Homo sapiens: one gene and its partners. The protein of the gene in region 1 purifies or fractionates together with the protein of each later gene. This does not show direct contact. Each region holds a gene or a part of one and is shown in the gene's direction. Other genes may lie near its edges. The genes, in order: GJB7, CNTN1, CCNY, PALM3, PAG1, EFNA5 and GNAO1.

Region 1 (4,057 bases):
CACCGAGAGTCAGGACTAGTCATTTTTGAATGATTTTCCCTTCTTTAGCAAAATTCTTGCTCAGGGAGTTATTCCAGAATACTTGACTACCTATTAATATATTGTACATGCAAATTAGACTAAGATATAAAGAATATAAGAATTACTTTGAGGGAAACACTTAATCTTCAAACATACATTTTAGAAATAAGCACCTCAATAGAAGACAAAACAAAATGACCAGAATCATAAAATGTTAACGAGCAGGAACCTTATTAATAATGAAAGCATTTCCTTTAAAAGACAGAGAATTATAAAATGGGCAAAATATTTTAATGAAAGTATAATACACTTTTTTATAGTTTCACATGCCACATTATCTTAATACTTAAGAAACTAACTTGAACTTTGGGGCAGAAAACCTTAAAAATAATTTAAATTAGTTTAAACAAGTTTGGGATAGAATCAGAGGACTTCATGGCTTGAGGGGAAACATAGCATAACCTCAGATTCTCACTTTGCTACTTATAAGCTGTGTGTCTTTAAGTGACAACTCTGATTCTCAGTTTCTACCTTTATAAAAGGAGCAATACTATCTATTGCATAGATAGGTACTAAATGTGTGCATTAATTAAGATGACACATTTTAAAAGATGCAGATGTTCAATGAATGGTAGCTACTTTCATACTCACCATTTAGTCTAACTCCCCCTTCTAAACCCCTTTCTGAGAAACCCAGACCCAAGGAGATGTCCTTACCAGGAGGGTGCGATCACCTAGGTCTCCCAATTACCAGCCCACCAATATTTCACCACCTCACCCCATCTTACTCTTGAATTGATAAAAGGCCTTTGCATGTATATTACAATATTTAAGAAAAAAAATTATAATCACTTAAGTTTTAAAAATTGATTATATATATGTTGTTTTTAAGGTAAAACATACTTTCTAAAAAAGTATCTTTCCTGCCGGGCAGGGTGGCTCACGCCTGCAATCCCAGCACTCTGGGAGGCCGAAGCGGGTAGATTGCTTGAGGTCAGGATCACTTGAGGTCAGGAGTTTGAAACTAGCGTAGCCAATATGGTGAAACCCCGTCTCTACTAAAAATACAAAAATTAGCTGGGTGTGGTGGTGCGGGCCTGTAATCCCAGCTCCTCGGGAGGCTGAGGCAGAATAATCGCCTGAACCCAGGAGGTGAAGGTTGCAGTGAGCCGAGATCGTGCCACTGCACTCCAGCCTGGGCGACAGAGCGAAACTCTGTCTAAAAACAAAACAAGAGGGGAGGAGCCAAGATGGCTGAATAGGAACAGCTCCGGTCTACAGCTCCCAGAGTGAGCAACGCAGAAGATGGGTGATTTCTGCATTTCCAGTCGAGGTACCGGGTTCATCTCACTAGGGAGTGCCAGACACTGGGCGCAGGTAAGTGGGTGCGCGCACCATGTGAGAGCCGAAGCAGGGCGAGGCATTGCCTCACTCGGGAAGTGCAAGGGGTCAGGGAGTTCCCTCTCCTAGTCAAAGAAAAGGGTGACAGACGGCACATGGAAAATCGGGTCACTCCCACCCGAATCCTGCGCTTTTCCGACGGGCTTAAAAAATGGCGCACCACGAGATTATATCCCGCACGTGGTTCGGAGGGTCCTACGCCCACGGAGTCTGGCTGATTGCTAGCACAGCAGTCTGAGATCAAACTGCAAGGCGGCAGTGAGGCTGGGGGAGGGGCGCCCGCCATTGCCCAGGCTTGCTTAGGTAAACAAAGCAGCTGGGAAGCTCGAACTGGGTGGAGCCCACCACAGCTCAAGGAGGCCTGCCTGCCTCTGTAGGCTCCACCTCTGGGGGCAGGGCACAGACAAACAAAAAGACAGCAGTATCCTCTGCAGACTTAAATGTCCCTGTCTGACAGCTTTGAAGAGAGCAGTGGTTCTCCCAGCACGCAGCTGGAGATCTGAGAACAGGCAGACTGCCTCCTCAAGTGGGTCCCTGACCCCTGACCCCCGAGCAGCCTAACTGGGAGGCAGCCTCCAGCAGGGGCAGACTGATACCTCACACGGCCGGGTACTCCAACAGACCTGAAGCTTACGGTCCTGTCTGTTAGAAGGAAAACTAACAAACAGAAAGGACATCCACACCAAAAACCCATCTGTACATCACCATCAACAAAGACAAAAAGTAGATAAAACCACAAAGATGGGGAAAAAACAGAGCAGAAAAACTGGAAACTCTAAAAAGCAGAGTGCCTCTCCTCCTCCAAAGGAACGCAGTTCCTCACGAGCAACGGAACAAAGTTGGACGGAGAATGACTTTGACGAGCTGAGAGAAGGCTTCACACGATCAAATTATTCCGAGCTACGGGAGGAAATTCAAACCAAAGGCAAAGAAGTTGAAAACTTTGAAAAAAGTTTAGAAGAATGTATAACTAGAATAACCAATACTGAGAAGTGCTTAAAGGAGCTGATGGAGCTGAAAACCAAGGCTCAAGAACTACGTGAAGAATGCAGAAGCCTCAGGAGCTGATGCGATCAACTGGAAGAAAGGGTATCAGTGATGGAAGATGAAGTGAATGAAATGAAGCGAGAAGGGAAGTTTAGAGAAAAAAGAATAAAAAGAAACAAGCAAAGCCTCCAAGAAATATGGGACTATGTGAAAAGACCAAATCTACGTCTGATTGGTGTACCTGAAAGTGACGGGGAGAATGGAACCAAGTTGGAAAACACTCTGCAGGATATTATCCAGGAGAACTTCCCCAATCTAGCAAGGCAGGCCAACATTCAGATTCAGGAAATACAGAGAACGCCACAAAGATACTCCTCGAGAAGAGCAACTCCAAGACACATAATTGTCAGATTCACCAAAGTTGAAATGAAGGAAAAAATGTTAAGGGCAGCCAGAGAGAAAGGTCGGGTTACCCACAAAGGGAAGCCCATCAGACTAACAGCGGATCTCTTGGCAGAAACTCTACAAGCCAGAAGAGAGTGGGGGCCAATATTCAACATTCTTAAAGAAAAGAATTTTCAACCCAGAATTTCATATCCAGCCAAACTAAGCTTCATAAGTGAAGGAGAAATAAAATACTTTACAGACAAGCAAATGCTGAGAGATTTTGTGACCAGCAGGCCTGCCCTAAAAGAGCTCCTGAAGGAAGCACTAAACATGGAAAGGAACAACCTGTACCATCCATTGCCAAAATGTAAAGACCATTGAGACTAGGAAGAAACTGTATCAACTAACGAGCAAAATAACGAGCTAACATAATGACAGGATCAAATTCACACATAACAATATTACCTTTAAATGTAAATGGACTAAATGCTCCAATTAAAAGACACAGACTGGCAAATTGGATAAAGAGTCAAGACCCATCAGTGTGCTGTATTCAGGAAACCCATCTCACGTGCAGAGACACACATAGGCTCAAAATAAAAGGATGGAGGAACATCTACCAAGCAAATGGAAAACAAAAAAAAGCAGGGGTTGCAATCCTAGTCTCTGATAAAACAGACTTTTAACCAACAAAGATCAAAAGACACAAAGAAGGCCATTACATAATGGTAAAGGGATCAATTCAACAAGAAGAGCTAACTATCCTAAATATATATGCACCCAATACAGGAGCACCCAGATTCATAAAGCAAGTCCTGAGTGACCTACAAAGAGACTTAAACTCCCACAAATTAATAATGGGAGACTTTAACACCCCACTGTCAACATTAGACAGATCAACGAGACAGAAAGTCAACAAGGATACCCAGGAATTGAACTCAGCTCTGCACCAAGCAGACCTAATAGACATCTACAGAACTCTCCACCCCAAATCAACAGAATATACATTTTTTTCAGCACCACACCACACCTATTCCAAAATTGACCACATACTTGGAAGTAAAGCTCTCCTCAGCAAATGTAAAAGAACAGAAATTATAACAAACTATCTCTCAGACCACAGTGCAATCAAACTAGAACTCAGGATTAAGAATCTCACTCAAAACCACTCAACTACATGGAAACTGAACAACCTGCTCCTGAATGACTACTGGGTACATAACGAACTGAAGGCAGAAATAAAGATGTTCTTTGAAACCAA
Region 2 (3,500 bases), on another chromosome or scaffold:
ATCCATAACTTTTCTTAAACTTTAAGAGAAAAGTAATCCTGTAATTATTTGACAAAAGTAATCATTTCTAATGAAAAAATCGATAACTTTTTTAAAAATTATTTTATGGGTAAATAATTTCTACAGTTTATCCAGTTATTAGATATATTTCTTTGATATCTAGCTTCTATATGGGTTCAAAGGAAATAACATTAGATACTTCTGAAAGGAGGCAGAAGAAAGTATTACTTTAGCGTATTCTAGGCCACATAGTAACTATTTTTATCCAGCAAAATTATATTCCTCTCCAACTGCTTTAAGAATGGCTCAGAAGAAGTTTGAAATCATGCAAACAGAAGTAAAACAGGAAATAAATGATAAAAATTATAGTGACAAATACTTCCAAATGGAGACCACTTTTATATTTTGAAAGTAAGTCTGCTTCAAAGTTTTTGGGATTTTTAAATTTTTTATTTTTTATTTTTTTTAGTCAATGTAAAACAATTTTGGGCAATGAAGTAAGACTTTGATTCGCTTTTGGCATCTTTAGTCATTCCTGCCCTGTATGCTTTACTATATTCTAAGGCTGATAAAAGGGTAGATATCATTAAGAAACATTTGAAAATATGATGATCAGCCAACACCAATGGTAATAGAACCAGTTGAAGAGAACTTTTCATAGCTGAAGACTCTAAATCATGGCAAAATATAACTCATCCTGAATGTTTGCAGATTCGGTATTGGGCTGCCCATGACAAAGAAGAAGCTGCAAACAGAGTTCAAGTCACCAGCCAAGAGTACTCGGCCAGGCTCGAGAACCTTCTGCCAGACACCCAGTATTTTATAGAAGTCGGGGCCTGCAATAGTGCAGGGTGTGGACCTCCAAGTGACATGATTGAGGCTTTCACCAAGAAAGCACGTGAGTCTCACGTTTTGTTTTTAGACTTGTCAAAAACTACCACTGGATTCAATCATGATACGAATATATTTGAAGGAAATTTCCTACCTAGCTACCTGAGCACATTTTTCAATATCCTTTACAGCCACACAAGATTTCCCTTAAAACGTGAATTATTGTAGATGATGAAAAAATGTGAAAAATACCCTCACACGTTAAATATTCCATTATAGAAATAAAGTTAGAGAACTATCCTTTTGTAAAGGCTGTCCTCTCAAATTCTGTGCCATTAACTTGTCTTTACCCTGTACTTATTAATTTAAACATTGTTTTCATAGGAGTACATCAACAGCATGTGAAAACTAAAATTCTGCTTATTTTTACATGCTTTAATTTATAAACCTCTGTCATTGCACAGTGCAATGCAAGTTAAGTGTGTAGCATTATGCTTACTCTCTTATTACTGTATGTTCTAGTACTGTATGTTTTAGGTGGTTCATAAAACAAGACCGCCTATCCCTGCTCACGTTCTGGTCATTCTAATCTCTCTGGGTTCATTTTGATATCTCTGTTCTTGAACCCAAGTGGAATAAGTAAAAAGGAGAATTTTTATGTAGGACTCTAGGGAATGTCTCAAGAATCTGAAGATGTGATTACCATTAGAGTGTGAAAATTTATGAAATTCACTTTGGGACAGAGACTCTCCCAGTGAGATGACAGAATGTAGTGACAAGAACTAGAATTTGGTGTCTAACATGTGTTTGAGATCTGTCTCTGCCACTTGCTAGATGTATGACAATAGATAAATTACCTATTTAAACCTCAGTTTTCTAATTTGTAAAAGGAGCATTCATTTTTGTTCTTTTTCCATTTGTTCATGTATTTATTCATTCATCAAAAATATGCTGTGTGCTCAGCACTATTCTTGATGGTGAGGATACAAAAGGGATCAAACCAGTCCAAGGTGCTATTCTCGCATGGTTTACAAGCTAATGAAATGAGATAGAAACTTCAAACAAACACAAACTCTGACAAATAAATAAGTGGGATTAAAGCAGCTGACAGGGCAATAAAATGAATAAATAGACAAAAGTAAAGTGACTTAGATAAAAGTGAAATTCTGATTGGGTGGCCAGGAAAGGCCTCTGAGAAGATGCCAGTTAAGCTATGATTTGAGTGATAAATGATAAGAAGAACCCACTATGTGAATAGCTTTAGGCAGAGCCTTAAGGTTCTTTGCACTCTAAGTAGTACAAAACCTTAAGGTGAAGAGCACTTAAAATATTTTAGGTGTGGAAAGGCCACTGGGTCCAGGGCATAGGTTCTGAGTAAGGAGGGGGAAGTGTTCTGGGGCCCAATTACGGAGAACCTTGTAAGTAATTGTGATGAGTTTGAGTTCTTTCTAAACATGATAAGAAGCCATTGAAAGATTTTAAAACAGAGAGTGATATCTAATTTATGATGTTGTTTTTAAAAAAGTCATTCTGGCATCTGTACAGAAAATGGATTGTGGTGGGTTAACAGTGGAAGCAGAAAAGCCAGTTAGGAGACTATTTCAGCAGTCAAGGAGAGAATTGATAGTGGCTAGCACTAAGTGAAAATGGAGACAGAAGTGGAAAGTTTTCTGTAGGCAGAGTTGACAACTTGCTGCCAATTTGGATGTTGGCAATGAGTGGGATGAGAGACTAAATACCAAATTTCTGCTTGAGAAACTAGGGGGTTGGTTGTGCCATTTGCTGACGATGGCAAAGAGTCATTGGAGAAAGATTTGAGGATACTCGACATTATATTACATTTGAAAAATGTATTACATTTGATTATATTACATTTGAGAAATCTTTTAGAGACTCAAGTAGAAATAGGCTGATATCTGCCTAGACAGAGAGACCTATAGCCACATATGTCTAGAGGTTGAAAGAGAGATTAGGGCTAGAGACAGAACTGTGAATATTTAAAGCCATGGGCCTAAGTGTCAGTACTTAGGGAAGATCCACAGAGAGAGTAGAAAAGGTACATAGATGAAGTCCTAAATCATCCAACAGTTACAAGTTGACAGAGGGAGCCAGCTAAGCATGAATAATGGGAAGCAGCAGCCCATGAGGTAGAAGGAAAACCCAGTTGTTAAGATCTGAATTTAAGAAAAAATGAGAGATTCAAGAAAGAAGATGGTCAATTCTGTGAAATGCTCCAAAAATGTTAAATTTAAAAAAGAATAATCAAGTGACATTAGATTTAACCAAGTGGAGGTGATTGATGACCTTGCAAATAGCAATTTCAAAAGACTAGTGGAGAAAGAAACCCAAGTGGAGCATGATGAGAAGAGAATAAAAGTCATATTACCTAGCTCACAGGGCCATGGGGTACATTAAATGGACTCATGGATGTAAAGTGCTTAGCATAGTGCCTGGCATATAGTAAACACTTATTAAAACTAGATGGTGGTGGTCATTATCATCAGCATTATAATACCTGATGCAATAGAGTATGCAGAATTGAGATTGGATATAGTGACCACTGATTGCATATTACTACTTTTCACAGCTCCTAGCCAGCCTCCAAGGATCATCAGTTCAGTAAGGTCTGGTTCACGCTATATAATCACCTGGGATCATGTCGTTGCACT
Region 3 (3,500 bases), on another chromosome or scaffold:
TAGGTTATTAGTAAACATTTTAAAACTACATTTTAAGAATCATTGACTCTAGTATATATCAAAAGCTGAAGTACTCAAATACCATATTTTTTATGTCCTGAAAAACATCCCACCCAGCTGGTTTAGAAAGGTTTGAAGTTCATGGGTCTTCTATGATAGGTTAGTGTCTTTAAATCACAGAGATATGACATATGTATCCATGCTTTCTTCCCTTTGTCACCAGGCACATGAAGGGGTAATACTTGTCCTGTAGAATTTCAGTAATTTTAGTGTCTGGGAACTTAGGTGTCTATGGTGCTTAATGGCAACTTAATGTGTCTTTTTGCTCAGTTTATCTTAGTGTTAGGTTATTCATGTTTTTGAAATTGATATTGGACTCATGCTTTCCAGGTATTATTTCTTATAAAATCATTCAGAGATTGAGAAAAAACAGCAACACATAACAACAATAGTAATCTTCAGAACAATTCTTTAGGAAAATAAAAAAATGATAGTAATAATTGCAGCCTATGTATTACTTACTCTGTAGCAGCTGTCACCAGCTGCCGCTCTAAGTACTTGGATTCCATTCATTTACTTAGAACTCACAGTAACCCTATGGGTAATATTACCCTTACTTTAAGACAAAGAAATGAGTCACTGAGAGGAGAAATGACTTGTCCAAAGTCACACAGCCAATACATGGCAAATGGAAACTTTCCATTGTTGCTTGACTTAGCCATCAAACGTTAGCTAGTCTGGGGTTGCCTTCTGGGATAGGGTGTCTTGTCATTGCAGTCATATCCATACTTTCTCAAGGATAAACTTCTTCTGTCTGCAGCAGTTATTCAGTCCAGACTTCCAGGATTAGATTATTTCTGTGGGAGGAGAAAGGGAGGGAGGGACTAAAGAGAATTTAAAATGTGAGGAGACCAAATAAATCAGGATACTTGTAACAGCTGTACCATAGTGTCCTTGTAGGGTTTTACCTTAAAATGGTTGATGGCAACTTCATTCTTTTTTTTTTTTTTTTTTGAGATGGAGTTTTGCTCTGTCACCCAGGCTGGAGTGCAGTGGCATAATCTTGGTTCACTGCAACCTCCACCTCCCGGGTTCAAGCAGTTCTCCTGCCTCAGCGTCCCAAGTAGCTGGGATTACAGGCATGCGCCACCACGCCTGGCTAATTTTGTATTTTTAGTAGAGATGGGGTTTCTCCATATTTGTTATACTGGTCTCGAACTCCTGACCTCAAGTGATCTGCCCGCCTCAGTCTCCCAAAGTGCTGGGATTACAGGGGTGAGCCACTGCTCCTGGCCCACTCTTTTCATTTTTATAGTTTACCTGTCATCCTTGACAACTCACTTTCTCCCTCGTCCTGTATCATATCTGGTAGGAAAATGTGGCTCTCTGCCCTCAGAATATATCAGACTTTGACCACTCTCAAGACCTCTGCTGCTGCTCTTCTGGAGATTTAAGCAGCTGCCATCTCCCCCAGCCCACCTGGTCTCCCTGCTTCCACCCTTGCCTGCTCCAGTCTGTTCTCGACACAACAGCCATGGCTAAGATCCTTTAAAAAACTTGAACTTATTCCTTCACTCAAAAACGGCAGTGACTCGTTATTGCACAAGTAAAAGCCTTACAGTGGTCGCTGGGGCCCCTTGGGATCTGCCTGCCATCAGCTCACTCAGTCGCTTGCTCATTCCAGCCACATTGGCCTCCTTCCTTGCCCTTCCTGGAACATACCAGACACAAACTTCCACCCCGTTCTCTCCCTCTGCCTGAAGTGTCCTCCATGTGCTCTCTTGGCTGAGTCCCTTTATCACCTGCAGCCTTGGTTCAAGCCTGACCTTTTCAGGGAGGCCTTCCCAATCACCTTTAAACATCCTTTCTGCCGCCCACTGGCAATCCCAATGCATATTCCCTGCACTCCTGTTTCTTTATTCCTTAACACTTTATGATATACTATATAAGTATAAACATAAATACTAGCTACTAGCTACTAGCATGTAAGTTCCAATAGAACATTTATTGTTTGGTTCACTGATGTAACCAAGTGCCTAGAGTAGCACCTGATTCCTTGAAGATACTATAAATATTTGTTGAATGAATTTGTTGAGTGAAACCAACCATTGAAGGATGTGAATGAAAACATCATCGCGTATGTTTATTGGGTGAGGGGAAACAGGAGGCAAGGAGAATGAAGAGGACTTGTAATAATGAAAGTAGCGTGGATGTGAAACTTTTTGGCTTTGTAGTTTAACCTGAGAGGTAGCAGATAGGGTGAAGTACTGAAAATGAAACTTAAAGGTTTTAAAGCTTAAAAAGAAAAAAAGCATACCCAGGCTGAAAGGAAACCTGGCTAATGGGAATCTGTTTAATAATGTGGTATGTTTAGTCTTTTTTCCTTGTTTCTTTCAACGAATGACTTTAGCTGTGGCCTTACATCCTTAAGGATCAAATTGAGACTCAAATGCTCAATTAACCAAAAAATACTAGATGAACATCTGCAATTATGAACATAGTCACTTATGTTGATTTTCTTGTCTGAAACATGAAGTGTCTAATGGGATATAGGTACATGGTGTTTTGGCTGTCTACAGCCAGAGAAGCTAGAAGCCTCAGGGACTCATCCCAAGCAGCGGAGGGATAACTGGCAAAACTGCTTGCCGTTAGAAGAGTGGGGACACAGGGCAATTTGAAATCTAAGTGCCTGTAGGATGAGCTTGCATATTGCTCTTGGCTTCCTTGAGTCTCTACAATCTATTTAACATCACCTCTGCAGCACTCTTTCTTGAATCTTGGTCCCACATTAACATTACCAGCCCTGGTGGGCAGAACATACCGTGGACTTTCTTTCCAGGCTAAGACTTATCAGCCCTGCTGTCTGCAAGGTATGTGGAGACACCCCGACCAAGCATGTGACTTCATATTAGTTAGCAGTGTGGAGAAGTGCAGTTTAAAGATTTGTCAAGAGAGCCATTCTCCATAGCACTGACCATGGGTCCATGACCTGTCTCTGCTTACTTTTCATGTTTCTCTTTCACTTAGAATCAGGGAGTCGTTTGCTTCCACACACCCATTTTACAGGTGGGAAGACTGAATCTCAGAGAGGTGTAGTTTCTTGCCCAGGTCATGCAGATCATGGATGATGGTAGTAGAATTTACTTTGTTAATTTTCGGCCAACAACCGTGCTAATTACTTGACCTGTATTGTTTTTCTTAGTCTTCTTATCATTCTCCCCATTTTCTAGGTGAAGAAATTGAGCCTTAAAGGTTAAGGCATTTGCGGAAGGTTCCTCAGTTTGTTAGTGGCAGCTGGGGTTCGGTCTGCTGTCAGCTTGCCTCCATGCCTCAACTGCCCTGTGACAGCTAATTAGAGAATGATCCGTGTCTAGAATCTGAACCTCCTGATGGCCTGGCCCAGCCCACTTTGTTTCAAGAGATTCATAGTTATTGCCTATATGCTTTTGTCTAGCAATATTTTGTGTAAGGACTTTTACTTTCCTGCCTGCCTTTTTTTT
Region 4 (4,157 bases), on another chromosome or scaffold:
AAAGAAAAACAAAAAGTCCAGAATAGGCAAATCCATAGAGATGGACACAGATTGGTGGTTGCCAGGCACGGGAGGCAGGGGAATGAGTAGTGATCACTTCCTTTTGGGTTGATGAAAATATTCTGAACCAGTGGTGAGGATTGCATAATATTGTGAACATACTAAATGCCACTAATGGTAAATTTTGTTATGTGTATTTTACCACGATCAAAAAGTAATTTTTTTTTTTCAGACGGAGTCTTGCTCCGTCACCCAGGCTGGAGTGCAGTGGCATGATCTCAGCTCCCTGCAATCTCCGCCTCCTGGGTACAAGCAATTCTCCTGCCTCAACCTCCCGAGTAGCTAGGACTACAGGTGTGCCACCACACCTGGCTAATGTGTATCTTTAGCAGAGGCAGGCTTTCTCCATGTTGGCCAGGCTGGTCTCAAACTCCTGACCTCGTGATCCGCCCACCTCGGCCTCCCAAAGTGCTGGGATTACAGGCGTGAGCCACCGTGCCTGGCTCAAAAAGTAATTTTTTTTTTTTTAGACAGAGTTTTGCTCTTGTTGCCCAGGCTGGAGTGCAATGGTGCGATCTTGGCTAACTGCAACCTCTGCCACCTGGGTTCAAGTGATTCTTCTGCCTCAGCCTCCCAAGTAGCGGAGGTTACAGGCATGCACCACCATGCCCGGCTAAGTTTTTTTTTGTATTTAGCAGAGACGGGGTTTCACCATGTTGGTCAGACCAGTCTCGAACTCCGCCCTCAGGTGATCCACCCACCTGGGCCTCCCAAAGTGCTAGGATTACACATATGCACCACTGTGCCTGTTCTTAAAAAATAATTTTAAAAAATGTTATCTGCCAGATGTGGTGGCTCATGCCTGTAATCCCAGCACTTTGAGAAGCCGAGGAGGGAGGATTGTTTGCGCCCCGGAGTCTGAAACTGCAGTGAGCTATGATCGCACTACTACATTTTAGCCTGGGCAACAGAGTGAGACCCCCATCTCTAAAAAAATAAAACAGTCTCCAGCCTGTGTGCTATGCAATGGTGCTCTCCTGTGGGTGAGTCTTGGCAGGCAGTCAGACTCAAGATGATTGGGGTGCCAAGTAGAAATGCCATTCTCTGGTGGCAGGGGGAGTCACCGACTCAGTACTCTCACCCCCACGCTTGACCACGCGTGTGTGAAAGTGTTTTCCGGGAGGCAGCTGAGTGCAACAAAGAGGCCAGAGGCTGGTGAATAATTTATCAGGACAGCTGATAGTACCTCCCCAGAACTGCCCTCCAGCCCCCAGCCCCCCTCTCTGGTGTGCCTACCGCCTCCCTGGCCCAAACCCGCTGGACCTGCTCTCCCGGTGCCCGCCCGCAGCCCCCCCCCACTCCAGGCAGCCAAGTCACAGCCTCCGGGGCACCTTCAGGCAAGCGGGTGGTGGGTCCAGAACTCGGAGACCAGAAAGTGAACTTCTGGGCAGAGATGGCCCTGCAGAGCCAGGTGTGGTCTCTGGCCACACCCATGTAAGTGTCTGGGGGGTCAGGGGGGCTGGTGGGCAGGGCCTTGGGAGGGGCTCATGGGGGATGCTGGCCTTGTCTGGGAGCCGAGAGCTCCAGTGGTCTCTCCTAAGGGGACCCGGGGAGTGGAGGGGTTGGCTAGCCAACCCCATAGGCTCATCAGTGTCACCCTTCCTTAAAGAGTCAAGGGGTGGGAGAGAGATATAGGCTCCCCCTGCCCCTTCCTCTTCGGGGATTTTCCGCTGCCAGGGCTGAGAACCCAAAGTCCAGCCAGGGGGTGGGGCTACTGCTGTGGTGCAGGGAGTGGGGAAGGTCAGGGTCACTGGGTTCCACGTTTTGCCCCTAAAGTCAGTGTCCAAGGTGGGAGAAAAGGCTTGAGATCCAACAGAAGTTAAAAGCTCCCAGCCTGAGAAAGACAATGGCAACATTGCAAGGATGACCTCCTTCATGAAATGGCCACCAACTCTTGCGGGTGGCCAGAAGCCCAGGCCGCCTACGTTGTTCTTCCAGAGTTAGTTAGAGATAAGCAAGATGGAATGGGGTGTGTGAAGTCTTTTCATAGCTGAGGGGTGAGAGTTTTTTAAGGTTAAAAGGGTAGAGGGGGCTTCAGAGGTTTGGAAAGAGTTTTGGAAAAGGGGCTTCCCCCCACACTAGGGACCCCAATTCGGTTCCTCACCCTTCTAGGTCCTCCATTGCATTATTCACCAACTACAAACCTGGTTGCTTAGCAATGGGAACCCGATCCCCCCCAGCAAGGAAGAGGCAGGGAGATTACATCTTGGGGGTGGTACAGGAGACCACGGGACTTCAGCCCTCCCCCAGGGGCAAACCTATAAGCACAGAATCTGGGCTTCCTTTGGGATATCTTGCAAAGCATGACTTCGTGGCCGGGCACGGTGGCTCACGCCTGTAATCCCAGCACTTTGGGAGGCCGAGGCGGGCAGATCACCTGAGGTCAGGAGTTCGAGACCAGCCTGGCCAGTATGGTGAAACCCCATCTGTACTAAAAATACAAAAATTAGCCGGGCTTGGTGGTGCACGCCTGTAATCTCAGCTACTCAGGAGGCTGAGGCAGGAGAATCACTTGAACCCAGGAAGCGGGGGTTGCAGTGAGCTGAGATTGAGCCATTGCACTCCAGCCTGGGTGACAGAGCGAGACTCCGACTCAAAAAAAGAAAGAGCATGACTTCAATTCCTTGCCCCAAACAGCATTCAGGGTCTCCAGGCTGCTCTCTTAGCTACCTTGATGGGGATTCCTAGACCTGCACCCCCACCCCCCTCGCCAGCTGTGTTCTCAGTATTTTGGATCTGATAGCTTCAAGTTCTGATCTTGGCTCCATGACCTTGGACACTGCTGCCACTTCTCAGAACCTCAGTTTTCCCATCCATAAAATGGACACATTCATATAGCTTACCTCCTAGAGTCGTTGGGAGGATTCAGTGAATTACATTGCACCTGGCACGTGTTACGGGCTAGCTAATGGTTGGCTGATTTTGTTCTTAGCTGGAATGTCAACTCAGCAAAGAGTTGACTCCACTGTGTCATGATAGAGGCAGGGAGGGGGAGGCAGAGGTGGCTGTGGGAACCTAGCGGAAACCCCGTGGGGCACTTAGAACACTATATGCTATATATAGTATATATATATCATATATATAGCACTATAAGTGCTAATAGCCTTCACGTTGTGGCCACAGAAGATCTGGAAGGTCCTAGCTGGAGTTCAGGCAATGAGGCTTACCCAGTAGGGTGACTGTTCAAATTAATAAATGTTTGAGGGTTTGATCAGCGCCCGTCCATGCCGGTGGAGATGACAGGCAGAGAGACATCGCTTTCTAGATACTGGCCTGTGACACGTGGTCAACATAGCAACATAGTCAGGGGTGCCCAATGCATGTCTGTGTTGATAAGGTTGGTGTGACACTGACTGTCCCTAATCATCCTGCAGTATGACAGTCACCCTCCAGCTTCCACGGGAGCCTAAGTGGGTCCAGAGGCCACTCTGGAGGCTGAGAAGTAGAGATGTTTTGAGGAAGACAATGACAGGGGAATCTCGAGTTAAACCTTAAATGGCAAGTCCCCCTCCTCCCAGCTCAGAGTCCAGTCCTAGGCAGAGTGACCCAGTGATCCTTGTCCCCAGGGAGGGGGGTTAGCAGGTGGAGGAGGCAGCTCTGGGGTTACCATGGCAACAGTGGGAGGGCCACAGACTCGCTTGCCCCCCCAGCGCTTGAGAAATTCTGGGTAGGAGCTGAGGTCCAGAGAGGGTGTGGGACTGGGAAGAGAAAGAGGCACACAGCCTGTTAGGGGCCTGGTGGCATTTGAGAGTTTCTGCAGGTTGGACTGGAGATGGTTATTATAATTAATCATACATATTATTCATCATGGAATTATATAAATTATGATTATTCATAAACAATGGGACTATTTTTGTAGCACTGTACCCTAAGCTTTTCCCTGCATGAATAGCTCCTTGCAAGCGTCCTCTGAGATCGGGGGTGGCAAGGACAGGGTGGTCAAGCTATTCCTGCCCATCTTACAGATGAGGAAACTGAGGCTGAGAGAGACAAAGCCAGATTTAGGGAGGGCTTTAGCCTCACCAGTCGTGGTCACTGCTCAGTTCCCCTCCCAAGACCCTCGCCCCCCGCCCAGACTCTTCCCAGGTGCAAAGGGG
Region 5 (3,500 bases), on another chromosome or scaffold:
AGCCAGGACGAAGCCAAGACAACGTGACTCCCAAGTAGCAGGAGCAGAGGTCGGTCACCTGTGGCATTCTGTTTCATTCCCTTTTAAAATTATGAGACTTTATAGGCAGTGTAAAACATCAGCAGGCAGCGATGTGATAGGATGTGCGAAAAAGCTGGTCTGATACCATGGCTATAATTACAGAGCTTTAGTTCAATTAGGATTTTGTAAATGAGCAAATGACCTTTTTTTCCAGTGCCCCTTGTAATAGTTAATATGAGTCCATGCAATCTTGTGATGCCATTCTCCTGAAGGTGTTGATTTCTGGTACCCAGCCAGCTTAGCTTTGGCTGCTGGAAGCACAGTAGGTACTGATGATTACTTCCTGGAAATCTTGACAGGCTTATTGTACTGTGTAATGGGGAAAAGTTAAAGTATAATGTTTGGTGTTAATAAATGACTGATGTGAAAATAGGAACATGTGTCTTTAATATCAAATATGGCTTTATTTGCAGTGAAATCTAAATTCCTTATTCTACAGTAGTATTTTCTTGCCCTGTGTTGTATATTTTCCTAAATACATTTTTCCTGACAGTGGCTTTAGGCCAGTTGAACACACTTAGACTGAAAGTGTTTAACTTAAAGAGATCAGTCCAGAAACCATGATAAATTAGAATCTTTATCTGGAATTACCAAATTAAAATTTAAAATCATGGTCCAGAAGAGAACAAACATTCATGGTTTTTTTTATCCTACTGCTCATTTTTAGGTCTGTGTTTACATCTAGTCTCTACTATTTGTGAAGTATGTCATTATTTTTTTCAAGTTCTTCTTTGACTTAACTGAAAAATAATATTCCAAATTCTTAATGTAACATGAAAAGAGAAATACAATTTTTGCTTAAAAGACATTTTTTAAAAAGCGTTCAATTCAGTAATCATTTCTGTTAATACAGGAAGTTTTTTTGGCTTGCCAGTTATATACTGTGGGTATTTTTTAAAATGTGCTACCCTTGGGTTGTCTCATATCACCTTGCGTAATCATGTATTACAAAGGTTGATAATTGTCATTTCTCAGATGTCTGTATGTTACATTGGCAGCAGTAAAATGTTTTAATGTTGTTACCTTTTAAATAATTGTGTTGTATTAACATGCCTCATATTTTCTGGGGAAACTTGAAATATATCTAAACAAAAAAGGTCTGTTATAAATAGGAATTGGCATTTCATTGTTAATGTTTTTTCCTCATAAAAATAGTTACACCAAAAGTGACATATTGTCTATTACATGGGCCCAATCAGTATTAAAGTACTCCCCTTACTCAAAAATATTAAAAAATAATTCATGACACTTAGTAGCATTTTCATTGATTGTTTCAAAAGATCTTCATAATGGTCAAATTGTCCAATTCACAAAAGAGTGAGAAAGTTGTTTTCAGTACTGGGAATTTTTAAACCTTAGTTTTAAGACCAAAAATATCTCTTATTAGCTTGAACATTTTGTGATTACTTTTCCCTCCCCGGATCTAGTCCTTTTAAGGAGTAAGTCTAAAGAATGAGGCCATGAAGTCACTATTTCCTCCCACCTCAGTTTGTCTCCTGGTACTTAGCTGGCCTATCGCTTTGTGTGGCAATACCCCTGGGTCGCTTCCCCACTCAGCCTTCTGTATCTGCTGTTCACAGGACATGCCATTATGTCTTTCCAGTACGGATCACAGTGCTGCCATATCACAGACCCTGCCAGCCGGCACAGAACCATGCCTCGTCACAGCTCTGCCCAACTCACAGGCTGCCAAGATGAGGCCACAGGTCCACCTAGGGCGGCAGATGCTGGTGCTATTTGTCACGACTTTTGCCAAAACATGTACACTGTTGCTCACATCTTTCGTAAGAATGGTTGACACTAAGGGGCCATGGAAAAGCACTTTTAAAAAATTATGTGGTGGAATCAAACTCACAGAGGCAGAAATGTTAGTGCCGTGCTCTAACCAAGTAAGCTTAGTGTTCCCCACAGTGATCTGTATCTGGCCTGAGTCTCCTCAAGCAGCAACCCCCACTGTCCAGCATGTGGAAGGTAGATCCTTATGACAACACCAGACCCATAGTTACCAGGAAAGAAAAAGGAAGCTGAGTGTTGTGAAGGGGAAGAAATCCTTTTTATAAGAAGTAATCATTTTTAGGCCGGGTGCAGTGGCTCATGCCTGTAATCCCAGCACTTTGGGAGGCTGAGACAGGTGGATCACTTGAGGTCAGGAGTTTGAGACCTGCCTGGCCAACATGATGAAACCCTGTCTCTACTAAAAATGCAAAAAAAATTAGCCAGGCATGGTGGCATGTGCCTGTAGTCCCAACTACTCAGGAGGCTGAGGCAGGAGAATCACTTGAACCTGGGAGGCAGAGGTTGCAATGAGCTGAGATCGCAACACTGCACTCCAGCCTGGGCGACAGAGCAAGACTCCATCTCAAAAACAAAAACAAAAAAAAAACCTTTTTAAAGTAAATTGAGTGTAAAATGTTTTCACCATGAAGCCATTGCACCCTCTCCCCCAGGAAACAGTGCCTAAGGATGATGTCAAGTTACAGCCAGTTTGCTCTGATCCCCCAGGACCTAAGAAAACTGTGAGTGCTTCAGCATGCAAAGGTAGAGCTACCAGATAAGGAGAATAACTTGGCCATTTATAGCAAACTGCCTGACTTTGGAGTGAGAAACCAAGCACCTTCTAGGTCCTAGGATAGGTGAATTGGAGGTGCAGCTGCTGAAGTTCCCATTTTCTACATACTTCAGGAGCCAGGGTGTTTCATTTGGTTTTGTAAAACTTTGCTGTAAGTCATCACAGTTAATTCTTTGAATGGACATTTTAGAGTGTAACTTTTTTTCAAAATTAGCAGAACAGATATCTCTGCTCATTCTCTTTATACATTTAGTTTTTTAAAGTTCCCCTAGTATACCTGTTAGGCACTCTAAATAGGACACAGTTAAAGCTAAAAGAAGGACCAGTTGCTCCCTAGAGCCTACAGTTCAGAACTATCTTGTTGTCATGTCCTGGTTTGGTTTGGTTTGTTTTTAACTCAACAAGTTGGAAACCATGAGTTTAAAGCAAACTATTTCCTTTTCTTAAGCTTAAAGAGAATTTTTTTTTTAATCTTTAGCTCCTCATTTAGGTAGTGAAGGCTTCCCTGAAAGACAGCAGTGCCCTTCTCTGGAAGAAGAGGCTGGGACCAAAAGCCTGAGTCTATGGGTTGAGGATTTTGAGCATTCCTTTGACAAGCTTCTATGTATTTTTAATATAAGACTCATAAATGAACCTGATGTGGTGTTCATGACCCATCCCTTAAGCATGCTTGCTTTTTTTAACTTTACTTTTTGAGTATAGTACTTGTCTTGTTTTTCCTGGAGCCATGCTAGGATTTAATTCCTATGTGCCACTACCCGCCCATGTCCTGGAAGATGGCCATGCCTGCAGCAATGCTCATGTCTTGAGGAGAAGCAATGTGAAAAGCATCAGGAAAGCTGAACCTTAC
Region 6 (3,500 bases), on another chromosome or scaffold:
TGACTCAGGAGGTCTTAAGGCAGGGCCTGAAATTCTGGATGTATGAAGCTCCCAGATGCTGCTGCTGCTACTGAACTGTGGACCACACTTTGAGTAGCAAGATTATAGGTGGTAGCTACTTTAAGCAGCTTGTTGTGTATCTGGACTTTAACTAGTATTTATATTTAAACTATCTGGCCTTTCCCATGTATTCTCACTGTCAACTGAAGAGGTTAAAAGTTTACTTGTTAAAAAATACATTTATTGGACAGCTTAATCTGAGCTGAGAAATGCTGGGGGATGCAAGATGAAAAGATATTCCCTGTTCTTAGGGAGTGACCTTTCACTGGGGAGCAGACATGTAAATAGGCAATTAAAGTATAAGTCGACAATTGCTGATGATGAAGATAAATTCAGGGAGTAGTGAGAACATGGAGAAAGTTGTGCCTCACCTGCTTGGAAGAATCAGGAAATGCAACCACACACAGTGGGTAGAGATCCAAGTTATACCACTCAGTATGCTTAGCATCGACTTTCACCCCAGCTTGCCAGACAAACAAGAACATTCTTTTTTCTGACTCATTTCTTCAGTCCAAATGTCCCTACCCACTCACAACTTACACGGTTTAAGTCTACAGGGATTTCTAGCTCCTCTCCTTCTCCAGAAAACAGAATTTTATAATAAGTCAGATTTCACCATCACAATGATAACTGTCACTTATATTGGAATTGAATTTAAAAAGGAAATTGAACAGTACCAGTTTTATTATTTCAGTACATATTTCAGTCATTAGTCATGAGAAAACATGCAAAAGCCTTGATACTATCTCACATTTGATCCATAAAACAAGAAAAGGAATATTGAGTCCCACAGATGCAGGAAGCACTGGCATACAGTGAATTCACACTTCTCAGGCAGCATGTTCTTGACTTTTATTGCTTTTTTACTTTGTGAAAGAATCTCATTCAGCATATGAGAAAAAGGAAAGAGGAGGACTTCATTTGTGGGACAGCAACTCATTAGTTGTCTCACTGTAAAATACTATACCAATGTAAGAGAAAATTCTTGCTAGTTTTGAAATTTTCTTACTGGCTTCTCAGATTAAAAAAACAACAGCAAAAGCAAAAATCAAAAATGAATAGAGAGCACCAAGATGAGGAACATACCCACTAACTAACTAGTTGATTGCCTGATTATTAGAAATTATAGAATTCATTCAGCTTCATAAGCAAGATGTTATTATTCAAATATACCCATAGCGCTTATGACTGGTTTTTCCTCATTTGTGGTTAAATTCAATATTTCACTAAAAATCATTATGTGACTTCTATAACATTCATTTAACGGAGTCATTTAACTGTCAAGGGCTTCCGTCAAAGTAATTGTTCCAAAATGCTTCAAAATATGAAGAGCTTTTTGCTGTTCAGCTGAGTTTAACTTGAATTACTTTTTTTAATGAAAGGTAAAATAGCACAAAATTAGCAGCAAAAAGATGTTCATTAACAAGAAGCACAGTGGCTTGGTGTTCAGTTAAATTGAATTTTCAACCATGTTTTCGACCCGCAAAGGCATCCTTCCCTGTCTTTTTAGTAATGAAAGGGTTTCTTCTCTTCCACCACTGCAGTCAGGAGCAGCAGAGCTAACATGGTTGTCTTACAGACGTTTAATGTACTGTGGTCATAATTAAACTAAAGGATTCTTAGGGGAGAATTGGCCCTCAGTTGAATTTTCCTCTTCCCTAATGTGTGTGGAATGAACAAGATGATTGGGAAATAGCTATTTTCACACTTACTACGTTACAAGATGCTCTATTGCTGATCTCAGGAACAAGCTTCACTGCCCACCAGTCAATTTTACAGAATGTTCTTGCTAGGACAGCAGTACCTCTTAGCTCCTCATAGCCTTAAAATCTCTTCTTACTTTCCCTAGAAAAAAGAAAGCTGGCTGTGCACAGTGGCTCACATCTGTAATCCTAGCACTTTGGGAGGCCGAGGCGGGTGGATCATGAGGTCAGGAATTCAAGACCAGCCTGGCCAAGAGAGTGAAACCCCATCGCTACTAAAAAAAAAAAAAAAATACAAAAATTAGCTGGGCATGGTGGCAGGAGCCTGTAATCTCAGCTACTTGGGAGGCTGAGGCAGGAGAATCACTTGAACCAGGGTGGCAGAGGTTGCAGTGAGCCGAGATTGAGCCACTGCACTCCAGCCTGGGTGACAGAGTGAGACTCCGTCTCAAAAAAAAAAAAAAAAAAAAAAAAAATGAAAGAAAGAAAAAAGAAAGCTATAGCTTTTTGGCCATCCTGCTTTATGGTGCTAGGAGTAGGCTTAAGTATAGTGAAGACTGTGGAGTGCCAAAATTCAGATACAAACACAGATTTGGAGGAAGGGAAGACAAGGATTTCATAACAAGCTATTCACCTCATTACTTAGAGAGGACATGAGTCAGAAGATTCTTATCAACATTTGCCTTATCCTCAACCAGATTTCTTTTTTTCTTAATGTCTTTGAGTTTTATAAAATTAAGAAAATGTGGTAGTTGAAAATATCCTAAATGAAGTTTCCAATTTACTTTAAAAATAAAACATGCTTTGCAGTTCTAGTCCCTTTATTTTAACTCCCAAGAATAACTATGCTATATTCTCCTTTCCTTGGGAACAGACAGTATATTAAGTTGTTATAATTGCTGATTATTGCTGAGGTAGACTGGGGCCATCTCTGAATCTGACAAATACTGTTTTTAATCTACAGGAGTTATTTTGGTAAGAGATTGGCATACTAAAGTAATTACAGAAAGTTGGCGGTATTTATATCAATGATAGATTTGCAGAACTGCCAGTCAATTGATTAAGACAATAGTTGTTTATATAGACTTCCTAAAGGAAACAGTAATTTTAAAAAATTCAAAAATACTCATTTTAGCTGGATATGGTAGCACATGCCTGTAGTCCCAGCTGTTTGGGAGGCTGAGGTAGGAGGATTGTTTGAGCCAAAAAAATCAAGACCAGCCTGGGCAACATAGCAAAACCCTGTCTTTTTTTTTTTTTTAATACTCCTTTTAGAAACTTAAAAAATACTCAATTTAGAAATGATACTCTTAAATATTAACCTAATGAGAATATGTTTGATAGAAGTTTTGCAGTTATTTTTACATCAGAAGGGGTAAAGGGAAATCCTTTTAATAAGTTATCTTTGTAATTCCATAAAACACTGATTTGAATATATGCTTTTATAAAGTAAGGAAAACTGAGTCCCAGGTCCTTTTCTTGACCTAACTAGCTGTATGATCTTGAGAGAATCATTTCATCCATCTGGAGTTTGAACTCTACATCTGTAAAATAATGTAATTATAATTGACTTCAGAAATTCTTGGAGCTTTAATATCCTAATTTTATTATATTTTATCTGAGGGTCTGCAGCATTAGGGTAAAAGATAACATCCGTACAGTGGTCCAGGTCAATACCTTGCTTAGTAGATGTTCAATAAATCCTAGTTAAAGGTACATTTTTAGGGAAAATGCAGA
Region 7 (3,500 bases), on another chromosome or scaffold:
GAATACATCTTGATCTGAAAGACAACAGAAAAGCTGGTGAAGGGGTGATTCCAAACTGAAAAAAACAAAACAAAACAAAAAAAACCACATTTTGGAAAGAGTTACCCTCAGAATTGACACTAATAGAGAAAACTTTTGATTCTGAAAAAAGAAAGTGTGCCTGTTTGTACATACCCACAGAGTGTGGGTTTACAAATGGCAGATGTTGAGAAGAGCACTCACCTCACTTTCTTACTGATTGCATCATCTTAAAAAGCTTGAAGATGCTCAAATGAACTCCATCCTAAGAATTTCTTCAAATCTGTGTCACATTCTTATTTTCTTCCATCCCTCTCATTCACACACAGCATTGGTAGAAAGGAAGCTGTCCAACAGATCTGTGATTAGCACTGAGGGGAAGGAGAGGAGAGAGCAGTGGCTTGTTAACTGGTTCAGATAAATAGGTAGTTTCTTGTGTTTAGAGAAGCAGTTTAGCATGCTTCTCTAAAATTGAGAGTTGGTTAAGAGCATAGACTCTGCAAACAGGCTGCCTGGCTTCAAATCTTGGCTCTACTGCTAACTAAATATGTGACCTTACACAAGGCCCATAACATTTGGTGCCTCAGTTTCCTTACCTGTAAAATGGGACTGATAATGAAAATAACTACTAATAGGATTGTGGAGAGCATGAAATGAGTTAACATATGAAATGTGCTTTGAGTAGTGTCTAGAATGTAGAAATCATTATACAAATGTTAGCTCTAGTTTTTATTCCTTTGATTAGTGGGTGTTCCCTTCCCATGTGGAGTTCTCTTGTCAAGTAAGTATGTGGGACTTAGCCACCCTGAGAAGCAGAAGGGGGGTGCTGTGGTTCATGTTCATGGCTTCTTCCCCTTGCCTGCTCTGCAGCACCAGTTATATAACAAACTGTGTTGTCATAACTGATGTGACATTTTTGATGGCGCAGCTGCTTCAGCCCAAGAGCTGGGGTGACATTTCAAAGGGTGGGAAAGAGCACTGAACCAGGAGTCCAGGTCAGTAGCTCTGCCTCTGCCCCTCCGAGGGCTCGGTTTCCTGAAAGAGTTGGACCAGGGCTACCCCAGGCTCCCTTCCTGTTGTCAACGGTGTATGAAATTGGGAATTCCCTTTGTTTTCAGGGTCTTGATGTTCTCAATATTAAAGCATGAATTATGGTTTTATCCCATGGGGGTGTAGGGTATCCATGAAAGTTCTTTTAAGACTAAGTTAATTGCAGAATAGCAACCTCAGCCACAGAGCTTTGTCAGCCAGGAAATTTGTAGTTCTGAGAGTCAATTTGAGAAAAACACCTCTAACCAAACTTTTCATGCAGACATGGTTCTTAAACCAAAGAGGAGGATCTGAAAGTATCTCATTAGTAAGAAACAGGATGTTTCTGGGAGGAGAGAGCCAGTGACATTAGAAGAGAAGTGGTTTTTCCGTGGCTTCCAGGATGCTCAGAAGTGGAGACAGCCCTAGCGTTCACCAGAAATGGCTGCATATGAAGAAACTTGCCTGGGTTAAGGTGCCTAAAACCCAGGGAGCAGAGAGATTTGCAGACTAGTAAAAGGGGAGGCTCAGGAGAACTGTATTTTAATTTTGATTCACTCTCTCATTTAACTTTGGGCAGATCATTTGGCCACCCTGGGCCTCAATTTGTTCATCTGTTAATTGGGATGTGGGTTTTCACCATAGAATTTCTCAGGGCTCTTTCGGGTTTCCAGCTCTAAGATGCAGTAAATGCAAAGAGAAACTTAGAAGCCTGAAAGGCGGTGGGGAATAGTGGGAGTATTTACCACCCACAGCTTTTATCTGCTGAGCCATCTTTAGTTCTAATTTTCTTTACAGAGAAGAGGAAAAACATTGTGCTTTTCATAGCACCAAAAAATTAAAGTAAAATAAAATCTTGCAAGGCTAATAGTTGGTGCCCTGAATTTGGCCCCTTACTCTCTTGATTTGTCAACCATCCTAGAAATAAGTAGAATGGAGAAAAGAGAAAGGGAGAATAATACATAAGACTAGGATTTCATAGCTAACAATTTACCTTGGATTCTCTGCCTGTGTCTTAGCCAACAGATAGGTTTTCTGTAGAATATTGTTACTTATGAGAATAGCTTCTCCATGCTTTAAAATTGATCCTGGGGTCACCTGACCCCAGGGTCTCAGAGCACTAATGCATATTGCACATTGTGAATTAATTAGGTGTTTATTTGTCTGTATCCCTTGCTAGCCTGGGTGTCCCTTCCCACCAGGGCTCCCTGAAGCAAGGATGTTACTTATTTTTGCTCATAGTACAGCACCATGCCCAATGCCTGGCACAAAGGAGGTCTTAATAAACGTTAGTTAAAGAAAAGGAAGAATACGAGGTATATAAGGAATGAACCTTATTATTCTCCATAAACCAAAATAATCATGTTGAAAGCTTTTGGTGGCCATGGAATGTGTTCATCATTTTCAATCTATTATATTCATTTGTTTATCAACCTGTGAGCAAATATAGTCATCAATTCCATTTTACAGATGAGGAAGTGAGGTTCAAAGAAGTAAGGTGGCTTGCTCAAGGCCACACAGCTTAGTAGGTGACAGTGTTGTATTCAGACAATGATTTGTCTAATTCTAAAACCTGTGTTCTTTTCGTTGTAACTCCACACCTTTCTTACTAGACCACCCCCAGTATGGGCAGTAGAGACCTGGCAGTCTACGACCTCACACCCAGATGTTGATGGTGCCAGCTGTGGTTGAGGTCAGTGGCTGAGAGAATAGAAAGTGCCTAATTGGTGCTGAGTTCCTTCTGGAGGTGGTAGTAATGGTCATCATATATCACATTGATTTGGATACCAGAGTATTCCCTAGCAACCATCTGGACAGGCCTTGAAATGATTTTTCATTACCGCCTCAAAAATGGGGGCCATTTTCAGATTGCAACAGAGAGAAGGCTCTGGCTTTGGTGGAGGCAGGTGTCTTGGAGAACTATGGAAAGACAGGATGGTAGGGGATCCATCCATCTGTCCATCCATAAGCATTTATGATTGCCTATTTTGTGGGTAGCATACACACAGTGTCATGGAAGTAGAGAGGAAGGCCTCAGTCCTTGTCCTGAAGGAACTCATGGTCTGGAGGGAGCTACACAAAAAAGACTCTTGCACTTCAGGTAGGAAGGGCCACAATGTCTGTATACACAGTGTGCTATGGTAGAACAGAAGGCACCTTCTCTAGGCAGGAAGTTCAGGGAAGACAGCCAAGAGACAATGGCATGTGAACTGAGCCTTTAAAACAAGTGGTAGTTCACCAGGTCGAAAAAAAGGAATGCCAGGCAGAGGGACTGGCATGTGTAAAGGCATTAAGATGTCACCACATGGAACATGCTAGGAGTGTAAAATAGTTTGATTTGACTAGAGCAAAATATGTAAGAGGAGTGTTAAGAAATGAGGAATGAAAGATTGGACAGAAACCAGATCATGAAAGGCCTTATCTATTGTGCTAAGGACTTTGGATTTTATTCT

Evidence for each region.
Region 2: the proteins of GJB7 (region 1) and CNTN1 purify together in Homo sapiens (affinity purification with mass spectrometry; 2 studies listed by BioGRID and IntAct, with this or other methods). This does not show direct contact.
Region 3: the proteins of GJB7 (region 1) and CCNY purify together in Homo sapiens (affinity purification with mass spectrometry; 2 studies listed by BioGRID and IntAct, with this or other methods). This does not show direct contact.
Region 4: the proteins of GJB7 (region 1) and PALM3 purify together in Homo sapiens (affinity purification with mass spectrometry; 2 studies listed by BioGRID and IntAct, with this or other methods). This does not show direct contact.
Region 5: the proteins of GJB7 (region 1) and PAG1 purify together in Homo sapiens (affinity purification with mass spectrometry; 2 studies listed by BioGRID and IntAct, with this or other methods). This does not show direct contact.
Region 6: the proteins of GJB7 (region 1) and EFNA5 purify together in Homo sapiens (affinity purification with mass spectrometry; 2 studies listed by BioGRID and IntAct, with this or other methods). This does not show direct contact.
Region 7: the proteins of GJB7 (region 1) and GNAO1 purify together in Homo sapiens (affinity purification with mass spectrometry; 2 studies listed by BioGRID and IntAct, with this or other methods). This does not show direct contact.

Annotation. Positions count from the first base shown.
Region 1 is NC_000006.12:87,326,479-87,330,535, reverse strand, and holds the start of GJB7 (gap junction beta-7 protein), read left to right. Parts: upstream 1-1,257; 5' UTR 1,258-1,398; intron 1,399-4,057.
Region 2 is NC_000012.12:41,024,439-41,027,938, forward strand, and holds part of CNTN1 (contactin-1 isoform 1 precursor), read left to right. Parts: intron 1-711; coding exon 712-898; intron 899-3,418; coding exon 3,419-3,500. UniProt on the Homo sapiens protein: Contactins mediate cell surface interactions during nervous system development.
Region 3 is NC_000010.11:35,339,509-35,343,008, forward strand, and holds part of CCNY (cyclin-Y), read left to right. Parts: intron 1-3,500. UniProt on the Homo sapiens protein: Positive regulatory subunit of the cyclin-dependent kinases CDK14/PFTK1 and CDK16.
Region 4 is NC_000019.10:14,059,277-14,063,433, reverse strand, and holds the start of PALM3 (paralemmin-3), read left to right. Parts: upstream 1-1,357; 5' UTR 1,358-1,453; coding exon 1,454-1,494; intron 1,495-4,157. UniProt on the Homo sapiens protein: ATP-binding protein, which may act as a adapter in the Toll-like receptor (TLR) signaling.
Region 5 is NC_000008.11:80,969,069-80,972,568, reverse strand, and holds part of PAG1 (phosphoprotein associated with glycosphingolipid-enriched microdomains 1), read left to right. Parts: 3' UTR 1-3,500. UniProt on the Homo sapiens protein: Negatively regulates TCR (T-cell antigen receptor)-mediated signaling in T-cells and FCER1 (high affinity immunoglobulin epsilon receptor)-mediated signaling in mast cells.
Region 6 is NC_000005.10:107,422,938-107,426,437, reverse strand, and holds part of EFNA5 (ephrin-A5 isoform 1 precursor), read left to right. Parts: intron 1-3,500. UniProt on the Homo sapiens protein: Cell surface GPI-bound ligand for Eph receptors, a family of receptor tyrosine kinases which are crucial for migration, repulsion and adhesion during neuronal, vascular and epithelial development.
Region 7 is NC_000016.10:56,197,989-56,201,488, forward strand, and holds part of GNAO1 (guanine nucleotide-binding protein G(o) subunit alpha), read left to right. Parts: intron 1-3,500. UniProt on the Homo sapiens protein: Guanine nucleotide-binding proteins (G proteins) function as transducers downstream of G protein-coupled receptors (GPCRs) in numerous signaling cascades.